3 separate regions of the Homo sapiens genome follow, and all the other regions are linked to region 3. The links come from fine-mapping of genetic effects on gene expression. A gene starts in region 3. Each other region holds a variant in brackets. All regions are shown on one strand. Distances are between the middles of the regions.

What was found. PIP is the estimated chance that this variant, and not a neighbour inherited with it, causes the effect. A credible set is the group of variants that fine-mapping cannot tell apart.
Region 1: its variant is the best candidate, but not a certain one, in a credible set for the expression of PARP16 in whole blood (INTERVAL, PIP 0.75).
Region 2: its variant is the best candidate, but not a certain one, in a credible set for the expression of PARP16 in whole blood (INTERVAL, PIP 0.58).

What each region holds. Positions count from the first base shown.
Region 1 is chr15:65,307,417-65,310,202 of GRCh38, forward strand. No RefSeq gene overlaps it. Among named protein-coding and RNA genes, the nearest start is that of RNU5B-1, 4.1 kb to the left of the region's middle. The variant G/T (reference allele first, on the strand shown) is at 1,194.
Region 2 is chr15:65,315,922-65,318,421 of GRCh38, forward strand. No RefSeq gene overlaps it. Among named protein-coding and RNA genes, the nearest start is that of RNU5B-1, 12 kb to the left of the region's middle. The variant AAAAC/A (reference allele first, on the strand shown) is at 1,092.
Region 3 is chr15:65,285,808-65,288,307 of GRCh38, forward strand. It overlaps PARP16 (poly(ADP-ribose) polymerase family member 16), which reads right to left and starts at 1,076. Exons shown (of 6, transcript NM_001316943.2): 1 at 446-1,076. The coding sequence starts at 619. RefSeq lists a silencer at 761-1,320 and an enhancer at 1,471-1,520.

The DNA of each region.
Region 1 (2,786 bases), 22 kb after region 3:
GGTCTTCATTATCTTTCAGTAAAGTGTTATAATTTTTCTACTAAAAATCTCACACTTTTTATTAATTTCTAAAATAATATCTCCTAACTGTACACTGCGGTTTTATAGAAATTCAGTGAACCTGTATGGGATCTTACATCTGGCAACCTTACTTGATTTATTAACTTTAATCTATGTGTAGATTATTTTCAGTTTTCTACCTATATAATCTCATTATCTGGGGATTTTTTTCAATTTTTCCTTTCTAATATTTATAATTATTTTTATTTATTTATTTATTTTTGAGAAGGAGTCTTGCTCTGTCATCCAGGCTGCAGTGCAATGATGCAATCTTGGCTCACACAACCTCCGCCTCCCAGGTTCAAGTGATTCTCGTGCCTCAGCCTCTGGAGTAGCTGGGATTACAGGTGCACCCCATCATGACCAACTAATTTTTGTATTTAAGTAGAGCTGGGGTTTCACCATGTTGGCCAGGCTGGTCTCGAACTCCTGACCTCAAGTGATCTGCCCACTTCAGCCTCCCAAAGTGTTGGGATTACAGGCGTGAGCCACTGCGCACGGCCTCAATTCAGTTTTGGATGTAGGACTTTTCCTTTTTTTTCTTGAGACAGGGTCTCCCTCTATCAACCAGGCTGGAGTATAGTGGTATAATCATGGCTGACTGCAGCTTCTACCTATCAGGCTCAAGTGATCCTCCTACTTCAGCTTCCTGAGTAGCTGGGACTACGGGCATGCACCACCACGCCCAGCTATTTGAATTGTTTTGTAGAGACAGTCTCACCATGTTGCCCAGGTTAGTCTCAAACTCCTGGATTCAAGCGATCCCACTGACTCAGCCTCCCAAAGTGCTGGCATTACAGGCGTGAGCCATCGTGCCCCACCCGGACTTTTCTTTCACATGTGAAACTGAGCCAGGAGTGGTGGCTGTAAACCCAGCTACTTAGGGGACCAAATTGGGAGGATCACTTGAGGCTGGGAGTTCGAGACCAGCCTAGGTGAAATAGTGAGACCCTGTCTCTAAAAGAATAATTTTAAAAAATGGTAAAATTGGCCAGGTGCAATGGCTCATGCCTATAATCCCAATACTTTGGGAGGCCAAGGCACATGGATTGCTTGTGGTCAGGAGTTTGAGACCAGCCTAGCTAACATGGTGAAACCCTGTCTCTACTAAAATACAAAAATTAGCTGGGCAT[G/T]ATGGTGTGTGCCTGTAATCCCAGCTACTCAGGAGGCTGAGGTGGGAGAATTGCTTGAACCTGGGAGGTGGAAGTTGCAGTGAGCCAAGATTCTGCCACTCTACTCTAGCCTGAGTGACAGAGGGAGACTCTCTCTCAAAAAGAAAAAGAAAAAAGTAGTTCGAGACCAGCTTGACCAACATGGTAAAACCCCATCTCTACTAAAAATACAAAAATTAGCTGGGTGTGGTGGTGGGCGCCTGTAGTCCAAACTATTTGGGAGGCGGAGGCAGGACAATCGCTCGAACCCAGGATGCAGAGGTTGCAGTGAGCTGAGATCACACCACTGCACACCAACCTGGGTAACAGAGTGAGGCTCTGTCTCAAAAATAAGTAAGTAAGTAAATAAATAAATAAGGCCGGGCACAGTGGCTCACACCTGTAATCCCAGCGCTTTAGGAGGCCAAGGTGGGCGGATCACCTGAGGTCAGGAGTTCGAGACCAGCCTGACCAACATGGAGAAACCCCATCTCTACTAAAAATACAAAATTAGCTTGGTATGGTGGTGCATGCCTGTAATCCCAGCTATTCGGGAGGCTGAGGCAGGAGAATCGCTTGAACCTGGGAGGTGGAGGTTGCGGTGAGCAGAGATCGCGCCATTGCACTACAACCTGGGCAACAAGAGCAATACTCTGTTTCAAAAAACAAAAAAAGCCCAGGCGTGGTGGCTCATGCCTGTAATCCCAGAACTTTAGGAAGCCGAGGCGGGTGAATCATGAGGTCAGGAGATTGACACCAGCCTGGCCAACATGGTAAAACCCCATCTCTACTGAAAATACAAAAATTAGCTGGGTGTGGTGGCATATGCCTGTAGTCCCAGCTACTTGGGAAGCTGAGGCAGGAGAATTGCTTGAACCAGGGAGTCAGAGGTTGTAGTGAGCCGAGATCACGCCACTGCACTCCAGCCTGGCGACAGAGTAAGACTCTATCTGTAAATAAATAAATAAATAAAATGTAAAATTGACCACAAGGCAGACTGATTTCAGTTGAGTTACGATTTATTTGACAAATATTTATGGAGAAGCTTCTCTGCTGGGCCCTGGGCCTGGGCTTCTCTACTGGGCCTGGATATACAGGGGCAGTAAGAGCCTCACAGTGAACTCTAACAGATTGCAGCAAGCAGGAAAATGAGGCGAAGGGTTGCAGAAGGAGAGAGGAGGGAGCAACTGCTTCTGCCCAAGAGAATCATGAAGACTTCATGGAGGTGACAGGGCCCTTGACACACTGAGAAATGGTCCAGGGAGAGGCACTGGGAGAGTGCATCTCAGGCTGTGATGGACGGACTTCCTTCTGAGTTTTTGGTTGTCGTCTGTGGGGATCGAAGAGTCCCAGAGACCGTGCTCCTCCCGTGGCTAACACTAATTCACCGAGGAGCTATGCACATTCCTTCCCCTCTTCCCTCCATGCTGGGGGTGCCTCCAGGAGGCGAGAACACGCACCGGCCTTCCAGCTGAAAATCCAGGCCCCTCACCAAAATCAGGCCAGGCCAGCATCGGGAGCCTCCAGATGTAATGCACTGAAAAGGACACAGCTTGCCCTCTGAGCTGTTTACAC
Region 2 (2,500 bases), 30 kb after region 3:
GGGATTGCAGTCCTGAGCCCACACTCTTTTTTGAGACAGAGTCTGGCTCTGTTGCCCAGGCTGGAGTGCAGAGGCGCAATCTTGGCTCACTGTGACCTCTCCCTCCTGGGTTCACGCCATTCTCCTGCCTCAGCCTCCCGAGTAGCTGGGACTACAGGTGCCTGCCACCACTCCTGGCTAATTTTTTGTATTTTTAGTAGAGATGGGGTTTCACCATGTTAGCCAGGATGGTTTCAATCTCCTGACCTCCTGATCCACCCAACTCGGCCTCCCAAAGTGCTGGGATTACAGGCGTGAGCCACCACGCCTGGCCGAGCCCATGCTTTTAACCACTGGGCTAGGCTGCCTCTTGTGAGGGGACCTTGATTGCCAGGCCAAAGGCACTGGACTCCTCTGGGAGCAGTGTGGAGCTGTGGTAGGTTACAGACCCAGCCTGCATTTTAGGATGTGCCCAACCTCCTCAACCGTCCCACTCAGGGAGGCAGGGGGGCCGACATTCCTGGGTCTCTTCTCACTCTTCAAAAAGAAAATCTCCCTTTTAGTTAATTTAGACCGCCACCCCTCCCGCCCCACCGCCCCCGACTGGGCTCCCCTGTCGTCTTTTCCTCCATACATAGATGTAAGTTAACAGCATGGGCTTCGAACAAGGAGTCTGAGGTTCAAGCCCCAGCTCCACCACCTCCCTTCTCGGAGCCTTGGTTTCCTCATCTCAGATGGGAGGATGACAGCAAGCCCAGCTCTACCCGCTGCACGGCTGTGAGAGACGCACATGAGGTGATACGGAGGTGTCTACAAAACACCCTAAGAAGCCGGGCGTGGTGGCTCACGCCTGTAATCCCAGAACATTGGGAGGCCGAGGTGGGGGTGGATCACCTGAGGTCAGGAGTTCGAGACCAGCCTGACCAATAAGGTGAAACTCTGTCTCTACTAAAAATACAAAAATTAGCTGGGCATGGTGGCATGCGCCTGTAGTCCCAGCTACCTGGGAGGCTGAGACAGGAGAATTGCTTGAACCCGGGAGGCAGAGGGTGCAGTGAGCCAAGATTGCACCATTGCACTCCAGCCTGGGCGACGGAGCAAGACTCCGTCTA[AAAAC/A]AAACAAACAAACAAACAAATGCCATAAGATGTAATAACTAGCTGGGTGCCATAGCTCGTGCCTGTAATCCCAGCACTTTGGGAGGCCGAGGCAGCTGGATCACTTGAGCTCAGGGGTTGGAGACCAGCCTGGGCAACATGGTGAAACCCTGTCTCTACTAAAAGTACAAAAAAATATGGCCGGGCGTGGTGGTTCACGCCTGTAATCCCAGAACTTTGGGAGGCAGAGGCAGGCAGATCACTCGAGGCCAGTAGTTTGAGACCAGTCTGGCCAACACGGGGAAATCCCGTCTCTTCCAGAAAATACCAAAATTAGCCAGGTGTGGTGGTGGTGCACACCTGTAGTCTCAGCTACTCAGCAGGCTGAGGCAGAAGAATTACGTGAACCTGGGAGGTGGAGGTTGCAGTGAGCCGAGATTATACCACTGCACTCCAGCCTGGGTGACAGAGTGAGACCCCGTCTTAAAAAAAAAAAAAAAAATAGGACAGGCGTGGTGGCTTATGCCTGTAATCGCAGCACTTTGGGAGGCTGAGGTGGGTGGATCACCTGAGGTCAGGAGTTCGAGACCAGCCTGGCCAACATGGTGAACCCTCATCTCTACTAAAAATACAAAATTAGCCGGGTGTCTTGGCACATGCCTGTTGTTCTAGCTACTTGGGAGGCTGATACAGGAGAATCACTTGAACCCGGAAGGCAGAGGATGCAGTGAGCCGAGATCGCGCCTCTGCACTCCAGCCTGGGTGAGACAGAGCAAGACTCCATCTCATAAATAAATAAATAAATAAAAATACGATACAGGCCGGGTGCAGTGGCTCAGGCCTGTAATCCTAGCACTTTGGGAGGTCGAGGTGGGCAGATCACCTAAGGTCAGGTGTTTGAGACCAGTCTGGCCAACATGGTGAAACCCGTCTCTACTAAAAAAATACAAAAATTAGCCGAGTGTGGTGGTGGGCACCTGTAATCCCAGCTACTCGGGAGGATGAGACAGGAGTATTGCTTGAACCCACAAGGCAGAGGTTGCAGTGAGCTGAGATTGCACCACTGTACTCCAGCCTGGGTGACACAGTGAGACTCCGTCTCAAAACAAACAAAACAAAACAAAAAAACAGTACAATACAATAAAAAAAAATAGGCCGGTTGCAGTGGCTCACGTCTGTAATCCCAGCACTCTGAGACGTGGGCGAATCACTTGAGGTCAGGAGTTTGAAACCAGCCTGGCCAACATGGCGAAACCCTGTCTCTACTAAAAATACAAACATTAGCCAGGCGTGGTGGTGGGCACCTGTAATTCCAGCTACTTGGGAGGCTGAGGTAGGAGAATTGCTTGAGCCAGGGAGGCAGAGGTTTCAGTGAGCCAAGATCACGCCACTGCACTCCAGCCTGCATGACAGGATGCTACTTCTG
Region 3 (2,500 bases):
TATAAAAGTACTGCCCATAGATCACCTCATCTGAAGACCAATGTCTGGGCGGCTTTGGTGACTTTTTGGTGTCTAATTATTTGCAAAAGGATGGATAACTTTCTAGCTAAGCAAAACAGCTGATTCACATCAACCCTATTCCTGGCCAGGCTAGAAAATCTGTGGAGGACTATGCAACTATTCCTCACTTCAGTCCTCGGAGTCATTTGTCATTGACAGGAGAGAAGCAGCCACCAAGTGCCTTGGGAGTGAGCGTTGACATGAGGGTGTTAGCAGTGTTCTTAGCTCATGGAAACCTTCCCCAAGGCAAGGCAAGACCAAGCTGGGAATGGAAAGTCTGGCGGCTGTCATGTTTACTAATGCGGATGGAACTGCCTCTACCTGTGGTTCCACAGGGCACTTGGTCCAGGACGCAGTGGGCAGCGCCAGGACAAAGCACACTCACCAGGGCTTCAAAGTCCTTACAGTCGCCGCGGGCGTAGGACGCGGGGAAGGGCCGCAGCACCGAGTCGCGCTTGTAGCTCTGCAGGGCCGAGGCGAAGAGGCTGCACCGGAGGTCGGCGGCCAGCATGTCGCGGCCCGCCGCCTCCCTGGCGGCCGCCCAGCCTGAGGGCTGCATCCCAGGTCACTGCGCGTTGCCGGGGTAGACGCGCTGGTTAGGGGCAAGGGCGAGCGTGCGTTCAGCGCGGGGGCTGGGCCCGCGGACAATGGGCCGTCAGGGGCCGGGTTCCCAAGCCTGGGGTGGAGCTAGGCAGGGGGCTGAGATGACAGGGGTGAGAACGTGCCGACAAGTGTCCTCTGCCGGGGTCTGGGCCGCGGCTCGCCGCCGAAGAGAGAGACCGAGGCCTGGACCGCGGGTCGGCGGGGAGGTTGGGCCCAGGGATAAAGGAACTGGGGCTGGTGGGGGGGAGGGGTTCCCGGCCTAGGGGAAGGGCTATGACAATGGAATGACAACCGCGGGAACGTGCTGACACGTGTCCTCCGCGGAGGCCTGGGGCGGGAAGCAGCCCCCGGGGGACGGCGGGCAGAGCCCACTCTCCGCGACGGGCGAGGCTGCTGCGCCGCGCGCGCCTTCCTGCCCCGCCTCCCGCCGCGCCGCCGAAGTCCCGCCTCTCGCCAAGCTGCCCGCGGCGCCACCTGTCTTCCGCCTGCAGCTCACGTCCGCTTGCCTTGCCCGGCCTACCTCCCCTCCCGCCGCCGCGCTCCGCCCGGCCCAGCCGAGGGCCCGCCCCTTCGCGCCCCAGCCAGCTCCACCGTACGGGTTGTGCCCGCCCCTCCCAGACCCCGATCACCCGCAGCTACGAGAGTTGCCGCCGCCAGTGTGTGCCGGGCGACGTCGCCCACGCCCCTGCCAGCCATCCTCACAGCAGCAGCAGCCCTGGTAGAAATTGATGTGGGCACCCTCTCGACCCGCCCCTGTACTTGTCTTTGTCCCAGCTCTGCGGACTGAGCCTACCTCTCTTCCTTGGGGTATTAATGCTACCTATTGTCTCTCTTGAATCTTTTCCCTCCAAAACTGCACAGAAGGAGCCATTTAACACCCAGGGAAACTGAGGCTTAGAGTGCTGCAATGCTTGCCCAAGATCCCACAGCCAGATGGGTAAATCTAGGATTCACACCGAGATCTTTGGAAAACCAAAAGACTTTTCCTCTGCTTTTCAGCCTCCAGAATTCTCTGAATTGCTTAAGTCTCTGGCCTCAAATGCCCCAAGATCCTCCTTGGGAGACCTCTCTGACAGGGAGCTTGGGGGAGAGCAGAGGGGCATTGACTTAACTCTGCTGGAGGGTAAGGACTAGACTCCCATCCCCTCTCCCTACTCAGAACCTTCATTAGAGAAAACCCCAAAGTGTGACCTCATGGTCACATGCAAATCTAAACACAGACCATTGTGCTTAAACCAACACACCGCACACACTCCTACCCTGCAGGATCTTCTGAGGAAGAAACTTCTCCTTCTGCATCCAGGCTGTGCTGGGCCCTGGACTCAGAGGAGAGGTGGTCCCATGCCATTGGATTGCATCTATGACTTCGGGAGGTAGGGCGAAGACTGGTCCCCCAGACACCACAGAGCTTCCCATCTTCTTTTGCCAGGTAAAGGTTGGGGGCTGCTCCCAGGAGCCCACATCAAATCTGTTTGCTCTGAGGCCTAGAACCACAAGGCCCCTAGTGCTTCAAAAGCCATGGGGGTTCTCATAGGACCCAGGAACTCTAAGGTGGCTTCTGAAGCTCAGACCCCAGGAAGGGAGAGCTTGGAGTGGGTCAGGAGACCAGGGAACCATCTCTCATTCCACCTCTTCTTCATTGCAGGCCCTTAGACAAAAGCCACCCTCTGATACCTCCTTGGCCTCAAGAATTGTTTGTTGGGTGGATATATAAAATTTGCTTATCTGAAGATATTTGTCACATATGATATGAGAATCATAGTGATAATATTCACATCACAGGGTGGTGTGGAAGGGCCTCTGATGGCCAGCATTCTCATGACTTAGCTCATGCAGA